3 separate regions of the Homo sapiens genome follow, and all the other regions are linked to region 1. The links come from fine-mapping of genetic effects on gene expression. A gene starts in region 1. Each other region holds a variant in brackets. All regions are shown on one strand. Distances are from middle to middle.

Region 1 (2,633 bases):
CAGAAACACCAGGCTGGAAATCAGAAGAGAGGCCAGGGCTGGAGCTGTGAAGATGTCAAGGAAAGCTGGCATTAAAGTCAGGAGGCTGGGTGACATCACAAAGGAGAGGGCTACAACAAGAGAGTCTAAGACTGGGCAAGCCAGCCAGAAGCACATTTCCTACCCCAAGGTCACGGTGAGACTACAAAACAACCCCTGGGAAGTGCTCCACACAGCGCCTGGCCGCAAAGGGCTCAAAGGGGAGCTCTCTGCCCGTAGGCCTCCCCACTGCTCCAGCTGACCAAACACCGCATGCAAACCCTGCCTTGCCAACAGGACTATCGGACAGGAACGGGCTCACGGCAAGCTCCCCTGGACCCTTGGCACGGGGAGAAAACCCGTACACTTGGACAGCACCCTTCCTCCTAGCCCACTTGCTGTGTTGGCTAACAGAGGCACTGGCTGTGACGGGCCAGCACCAGTGCCAGCGCCATGGAGGCTGCCTTTTGGTCAAGTCTCTCCCGCTGCAGCCTCCCGCCCAACCCAGCGGCAGTATGACCTCATCCGTTCCTTTTGTCATCCTCCAACAGGCCTCATATCCCGCACTTAGAGGCAACACTGGGTACCCCGGGCTGGCCATTCACTCCCTTTTGTGAGTGAAGGCCTGCAGCAGGGTTTGGGCCACTCCCACAGCTGGGAGTCTAGTCTGGCCAGGAAACAGTGGATCCTCGCCTGGTGGTTGGCCTCGAACAGTCGACAGCCAAAGACAGGACTGCCGTGCAGGAACAAGGTACATGCAAGCATGCAAAAAGGCAAATCAGACTCCTGCCACAAGAAACCCAAGTCCATCGGTTGACACCAGACAGGCATCACTGTCAACAGGTTGCCACCTTCCATTTATTTCCGCCATGCTCATTGTTACAATAAAACCGTATCCCAATTATCTACGTGACACTCAACCCGTGAGCATTCTGTGGACAAAAAGACTTAGGCGACTTCTTGGATTTCCCAAACTGTGTTAAAGCCGGCAGGGTCCCAGGCGAGCACTGGCCCTGTCCACACCTTTCCCGCCTGAAGGCGATGCTAGGCTTCGGGCCCTCCGGGAGAGGAGCCTCTTTACCCGGGCGGACAGCGACGAGAGTCGGCAACGCCTGGGCCCGGGGCCCGCCCCCCAGCCCCGGAGGCGTCCCCACCCCGCGCTCTCCACCGCCCGCGGCCATGTTGCCTCACAAAGGCCGGGCTCCGCGCCCCCGCCCCGCCCGCGGCCTCGGTCCCGGAGGGAGGCGGGAGGGAAGGGCGCGCCCTCGCGCAGGCCGCGGCGCCCGCCCAACCGCCCGCGGGCGCCCCTCGCGCCCCGCACCTACCTGAGGCGCCCGCGGGCTGCCCAAGCCGCCCGCAGCCAAACCACAGCCGGGAAAGCCTCACCGACCGACCGCCGCAGCCATCTGGAAAGCCTGTCCAGGCTCTCCGGTCGCCGGCACCCGCCTGCCGCGCCGGGCGAGCGGAGGGCGGGCCTTCGCGGCGTGCGGCCAATCCCCGCGCGCGGCCGCCCCGCATTGGGGGAGCCGCAGAGCGCGCTGCGGAGGCCGCCAATCGGCGGCGCGTAGCGCGTGTGTCCGCCGCGCGCGGCCCAATAGCGCGGCCGCGCGGGAGGGACCAGGCGCCCAGGCCGCGGTCGCGCTAACAGTCGCTGCCCAGGCGGGGCTCGCTGGACTGAGGGCGGCGGCCGCGAGGAGCGCCGGGAACGGGAAGCACCGGGAATGCCGGGAGCAGGGGAGCGCGGGAAGCTCGGGGAGCGCGGGGAATGCCGGGAACAGGGAGCGCGGAGTACGCCGGGAGCGGACACGCAGACGGGCCACCTTCGGTGGACACTGCAGAAGAGACCGTGCACACACAGGCGTTACACAACCCTGTTAAAAGCATCACTGTATCAGACATCATCATTTATAAAGAACGCGTGTGCTCAACTGTCTGGCGCTGTCCCCTTTGCTAATACAGGATTTCCAAAACAGGGAGGGTTCGGCCGGGCACGGTGGTTCGGCCGGGCACGGTGGCTTGCGCCTGTAATCCCAGAGTTTTGGGAGGTCGAGTCAGGAGGATTACTTGAGCCCAGGAGTTCGAGACCAGCCTGGCTAACATAGTGAGAGCCCAGTATCTACAAATTTTCTTTCTTTTTTTTTTTTTTTTTGAGGCGGTGTCTCGCTTTGTCTCCCAGGCTGGGGTGCAGTGGCGCGATCTCAGCTCACTGCAACCTTTGCCTCCCGGATTCAAGCGATTCTCCTGGCTCACCCACCCGAGTAACTGGGATTACAGGCGCCCACCACCACGCCCGGCTAATTTTTATATTTTTGGTAGAGACGGGGTTTCACCATGTTGGCCAGGCTGGTATCAAACTCCTGGCCTCAATTGATCTGCCCGCCTCGGCCTCCCAAAGTGCTGGGATTACAGGCATGAGCCACCGCGCCGGGCCCAAAATTATTTTTAATTAGCCGCGTGGTGGCGGGCGCCTGTGGTCCGAGCTACTCGGGAGGCTGAGGTGGAAGGATCACCTGAGTCCAGGAGTTCCAGGCTGCAGTGATCCGAGATAGCACCACTTTCACTCTAGCCTGGGCGGCAGAGTGAGACTCCGTCTCAAAAAAAAAAAAAAAAAAAAG
Region 2 (2,633 bases), 37 kb after region 1:
GCAGAAGCCCGTGTACATCCATGCACCAGCTGCCACCATCAAAACACCACAGGGGTGAACAATTCCACAAGACTGGAGCTGCTGGGGTTGGCACTAGTTCAGAGGCAGCTGACAGACCTGGGTGCCAGGGTGGGATGGAGCCCAGGAGGGCACAATAGTCAAGGAACCAGAAGAGGGTAACCCTCTGAGCCGCCACATCTTCATCTATGAAAACCTTCCACCTTCCAAGGACATCAGTCTTGTGCCTTCACCCACCCGTCCTGACCAGCCCTGCACCCACTGCATCCTCCTATACCAGCAGGCCTAGGACCACCCTGCCTCAGTCTCCATGCACCCGTCCTCCTCCCACACGGTGCCGGGACCACCCAGCCTCAGCAGCATTCTCACACTACTGCCAGGCCACAGGCCTACACAGGAGTCCTCACAAAACCCCACAGCTGAGCTTTTATTTGATTGATTGATTGACTGATTGAATGAGACAGGGTCTCGCTCTGTCACCCATGCTGGAGTGCAGTGGCACAATCTCAGCTCACTGAAACCTCTGCTTTCCGGGCTCAGGCAATTCTCTAGCCTCAGCCTCCTGAGTAGCTGGGGCCACAGGCACATGCCACCACGCCTGGCTAATTTTTGTATTTTTTTTTGTAGAGACAGGGTTTTACCATGTTGCCCAGACTGGTCTTGAACTCCTGGGCTCAAGTAATCCTCCTGCCTCAGCCTCCTTAAGTGTTGGGTTCACACCTATAATCCCAACACCTGCCCTCCCGGCCTGGGAGGCAGCACAGGGCACACACAGCCTCCATGGGCCCACGAGGTCACACATCTGGCCTGAGTGGGCACCCTGGAGCATGCCAGGATGCCTCGGGCCCACTTGGCGCCTGGTACGCAGGCAGAGTAACCCGTGGCCTCACCAGCCATCTATGCGCACCTTCCAGGTAGACTCCCACCACCCCATGGGCAGGAACTGGTTCCTGTCCAACAGGACTTCAATGAGGCTGGTATCTTTGGTGGGGAGGACCTGGTTCTCACCCCTACTTCTGCCCTATAAGTACACCTAATGCAACACAGGCATGGTGCAGGTGACGGGGCTTCAGCACCACCAGCTTCCCAAACTCAGCCCCACCATCCCTGAAGCAAGGGTGCTCATATACAAACAGAAACACAAACACAGGCACACACACGCACGCATACACACGCATGCACACACTCATATGACTGGGTTGCTTCACAAAGTGACTGAGTGTGGATCTGTACATCACACAAATCCACCCACATGCCCTCAGCAAAAAGGAGGGATCCATATAAAACCAACTGATGCTTTCACATGATGGGGCCCCCATGCAGACGCATGGCACAGGAAGCCACGCAGACAGTGCTGGGTGGGCAGCTCTGGCAATGCCCGGTGCTGGGGCTGGCCCCGACCA[C/T]GAGCCCCATCAGTTCCACCTCTACACCCCGCCATCACACTTGGAAGCAGCACCACTCAGTTAGGGTCACTCGGGCCACGCAGGGGCTAGGGAAGCAACAAGGCGCAGCCACCGCTGAGCACGCAGGAAGACTCACCACTGAGGATCTCGTTGTTGTTCCCCCAGAAGTCAGCTAACTTGGAGGGTCGGCTGTAGAATTCATCCCTGTTGGCTGCCAAGATGAGCCTGCAAGAGGAAAGCATCACTGATGGCTTCAGATGGAAACGAGCGAGCCAAGTCTTTTTCTCTTTTCACACACAAAACTGGCCTCAGTGGCAACAAGGGCCAGTCTCAGAGAGGGCAGGAAGCCGGCAGTCCTGCTGCACCCACACTGGAGGAAGGAGCACCGTGGCTCCAGGTGAGCTCTCGGGAGCCTGCAGCTGGGACCGCACGGGAAACAGGAGGATGCTAGGCAGGGACACACATCCACACCATTCAATGGCGGGAGACGGGTCTGCCAGGCCCTTAGGGGCACCATGGAGCCTGGGCTCCATGCCGGGAGCCCAGGCTGGAGGGTGGGGGGCTGTTCCTCCTTCTGTCCATCTGTCCCCAGCCCTGGGAACACCCACAACAAACCCGTGGGCTCTTGGAAGCGTGAGCTCAAGGATACAGATTGAATGGCACAGCATGTGGGCCTCTGAGGGCTGCTCCATTCTGTGTGTTTTGGAGTTAATTTCTCGGGTTGGTTGGGAGTGGATGGGAACTTCACTGTTTTACTAGTTTTTTTGCATTATGAATCAAACAAATATTTCCATTTTTATTTATTTTTATTTTTTGAGATGGAGTCTCTCTGTGTCACCCAGGCTAGAGTGCAGTGGCGTGACATCGGCTCACTGCAACTCCCGCCTCCCGGGTTCAAGCTATTCTCCCGCCTCAGCCTCCTGAGTAGCTGGGATTACAGGCACCCGCCACCACACCCAGCTAATTTTTTGTATTTTTAGTAGAGATGGGGTTTCACCATGTTGGCCAAGCTGGTCTTGAACTCCTGACCTCAAATGATCTACCCGCCTCGGCCTCCGAGGCGGAGGATTACAGGTGTGAGCCACCACATCCAGCCTAATCAAACAAATATTTCTTTTGGAATTAGGAGAGACATCTAAACTTTAAGAGCCCTGGTCTTGAGGAAAGAAAACTGACTTTCAAGTCCCAGCTTGGACATTAGAAGAAAACAAA
Region 3 (2,633 bases), 24 kb before region 1:
ACAGAGCCCAGCCCCAGGTGGCCAGCAGAGGCCCAGCCCAGCAAGGCTTCCAACAGTGTCATCACCCTGGCTCTGCAGCCAACCCAAGAACACACAGGAAGGACAAGAGAGGCAGACAGGGAAACAAGAGGTGATGGGGAGATTCCACACAGTGAGGCATAGGGAAGCTGCAGCAGGCTGAGGTGCAGAGACATTGCCCACTGTGCCTTCCCAGACTAGGACTTTGGCTGAAGCTGAGAGTGCCTCCTGGGTGAAAGGAAGATGCTATCCAGCCCACTCTGGAGCATGGACAACCTCCCTGGTGGAGCTCCTGTGACAACATACCACAAAGTCAGTGGCTTAGAACAAGAGGTTTATTCTCTCACCATTCTGAAGTCTGAAATCAAGGCCTCAGCAGGGCCATCCTCTTTCAGAAGCCTCTAGGGAGCCTCTGCCAGCTCCTGGTGGCCCCGGCATCCCTTGGCTATGGCAGCATTGCTCCGATTTTCATATGGACTACTAGCCCTGCCCCTCCTCCCTCTTCTTAGAGAAACACCAGACACACTGGATCACACCACTGCTCTGCTTCAGTGTGATCTCATGTTAACCTAATTCTATCTGCAATCATCCTCTTTCCAAAAAAGACCACACTTTGAAGCACTGGAGATTACCCATCAGCCACACCCTCACAGTGCTTCCCCCACTGGCCCTGTTCTGGAGGGGTCTGCAGGGACCTGGAGCCTGCCTGGCCCATGGGCAGCGAGGAAACCTAGAATCAAATGATTCACACGCCTCGCTGTGCAGGCTCCACAGTGTGCCAAGCCCGCTCCACAGGGACACTGGCCCTACAGACAGGGCAGTGGGCAGCTCCTCTGCCCTCGCCGCTCCAGCAAGCAGCAAGGCCAACTCGCTGCAACTGCATAGAAGAGGAAGGCACTAGCCCTGAGGTTGGCAAGCGAAAAATCCTCGAGGTATGGCTTGGCTACTGTCTTCAAATAGGTCCCCAGAAGACACTGCTCCTCTCAAGTGCACAAATCAACATGGGTCTTTTTCCAGGGAAGGTCACTCACCAAGACATCAGGCCCTGGAACCTCAAGGGTTTGTCAACCAGCCAACCAATTAGCAACGTCCAGTGCTGTCGGCCCACAAGAACCCACATACCCCACGGCTTCGGGACTGGCCCTGGAGAAGCTGAGGCAGTGGCTGACACACACACAGCTAGAGAGCACGCTCAGAAGTTTCTGGCAAAAGACCGACGCCAGCCGGGCGCGGTGGCTCACGCCTGTAATCCCAGCACTTTGGGAGGCCGAGGCGGGTGGATCACGAGGTCAGGAGATCGAGACCATCCTGGCTAACAAGGTGAAACCCCGTCTCTACTAAAAATACAAAAAAAAATTAGCCGGGCGCGGTGGCAGGCGCCTGTAGTCCCAGCTACTCGGGAGGCTGAGGCAGGAGAATGGCGTGAACCCGGGAAGCAGAGCTTGCAGTGAGCC[A/G]AGATTGCGCCACTGCAGTCCGCAGTCCGGCCTGGGCGACAGAGCGAGACTCCGTCTCAAAAAAAAAAAAAAAAAAGACCGACACCAGGATGCCCTGCACCAAGCTGCCTGAGGCCACATGTGCTACTGAGGGTTAACCCGCCAGGGACAGGTGGAGGCTCCAGCTCATGAGAGCAGACAGATGGCAGAAGTGACCTGCAGACAAATCCCTGTTGCTTCTGACAAACAGCACAGGAGAAACCTAAGCAATCAGTGCCTGGCAGATGCCAAAGGACCGTGTGGGAGCACCACAGACGCCCGACACCTCTACATTCCACTATCTATATGAGATGGACCAATGCCTGGCAAGACACAAACTATCTCAGTAGCCTCAACAGCCCTACACCTGTTCAAGAAACTCAACAGTAGTTCAGAGTAGTCATAGTTATAGTTAGTAGTTCATACAGTAGTAGTTTAAAACTTTCCCATTAGGAAAACTCCAGGCCCAAATTTTAAGGAAGAAATGATACCAATCCTATATCTGTCCTGCCCTTCTGAAAAACTCAGGAGGAGGGCTACTTCCCACTTCGCTTGATGACACTACCCGTACCATGACCTTAACACCAAGAACACAGATGCAGCAGGGAACTAGCAAATTAAAGCCATTAACACATGAAAAGGAACATATACCATGCCCAAGTAGGACTTATCCCAGGAACACATTTTTAAAAAAACAACGTAATTAACTACATTAACAAATTAGAGAAGAAAACTGGATAAGGAATCTACAGAAAAACTACTAGAATAAATCAGTGCAAATAAAACAAATTCTAGCTCTGTAAGCTAGCAATAAACAATCAATTGGAACTAAGGTACTATTCATCACAGTGCCATACATAAAATATTTAACTATAAATCTAGTAGAATATACACAGGGCCTGTGTGATGAAAACTGCCGACCACCCATGAAAGATATCAAAGAAGACCTAAATAAATGAACAGATGAACTATGTTTATGATTTGGAAAATCCAATATTGTTAGGATGTCCATTCTCCCCAGATTGATCTACAGGATCAATTCCAATCAAAATGCAGGCAGATTTTTTTTTTTTTTTTAAGATGGGGTTTCGCTCTTGTTGCCCAGGCTGGAGTGCAATGGCACAATCTCGGCTCACTGCCACC

What was found.
Region 2: its variant is fine-mapped to the expression of DGCR8 in whole blood (INTERVAL, PIP above 0.99).
Region 3: its variant is fine-mapped to the expression of DGCR8 in CD4 T cells (Kasela 2017, PIP 0.95).

The regions. Positions count from the first base shown.
Region 1 is chr22:20,079,094-20,081,726 of GRCh38, reverse strand. DGCR8 (DGCR8 microprocessor complex subunit) reads right to left here and starts at 1,486. Exons shown (of 14, transcript NM_022720.7): 1 at 1,344-1,486. RefSeq lists an enhancer at 668-727 and a silencer at 988-1,607.
Region 2 is chr22:20,042,368-20,045,000 of GRCh38, reverse strand. TANGO2 (transport and golgi organization 2 homolog) reads right to left here. Exons shown (of 9, transcript NM_152906.7): 3 at 1,558-1,646. Among named protein-coding and RNA genes, the nearest start is that of MIR185, 11 kb to the right of the region's middle. The variant C/T (reference allele first, on the strand shown) is at 1,422.
Region 3 is chr22:20,103,073-20,105,705 of GRCh38, reverse strand. All of the region lies in intron 9 of DGCR8 (DGCR8 microprocessor complex subunit), which reads right to left. Among named protein-coding and RNA genes, the nearest start is that of MIR6816, 10 kb to the left of the region's middle. The variant A/G (reference allele first, on the strand shown) is at 1,473.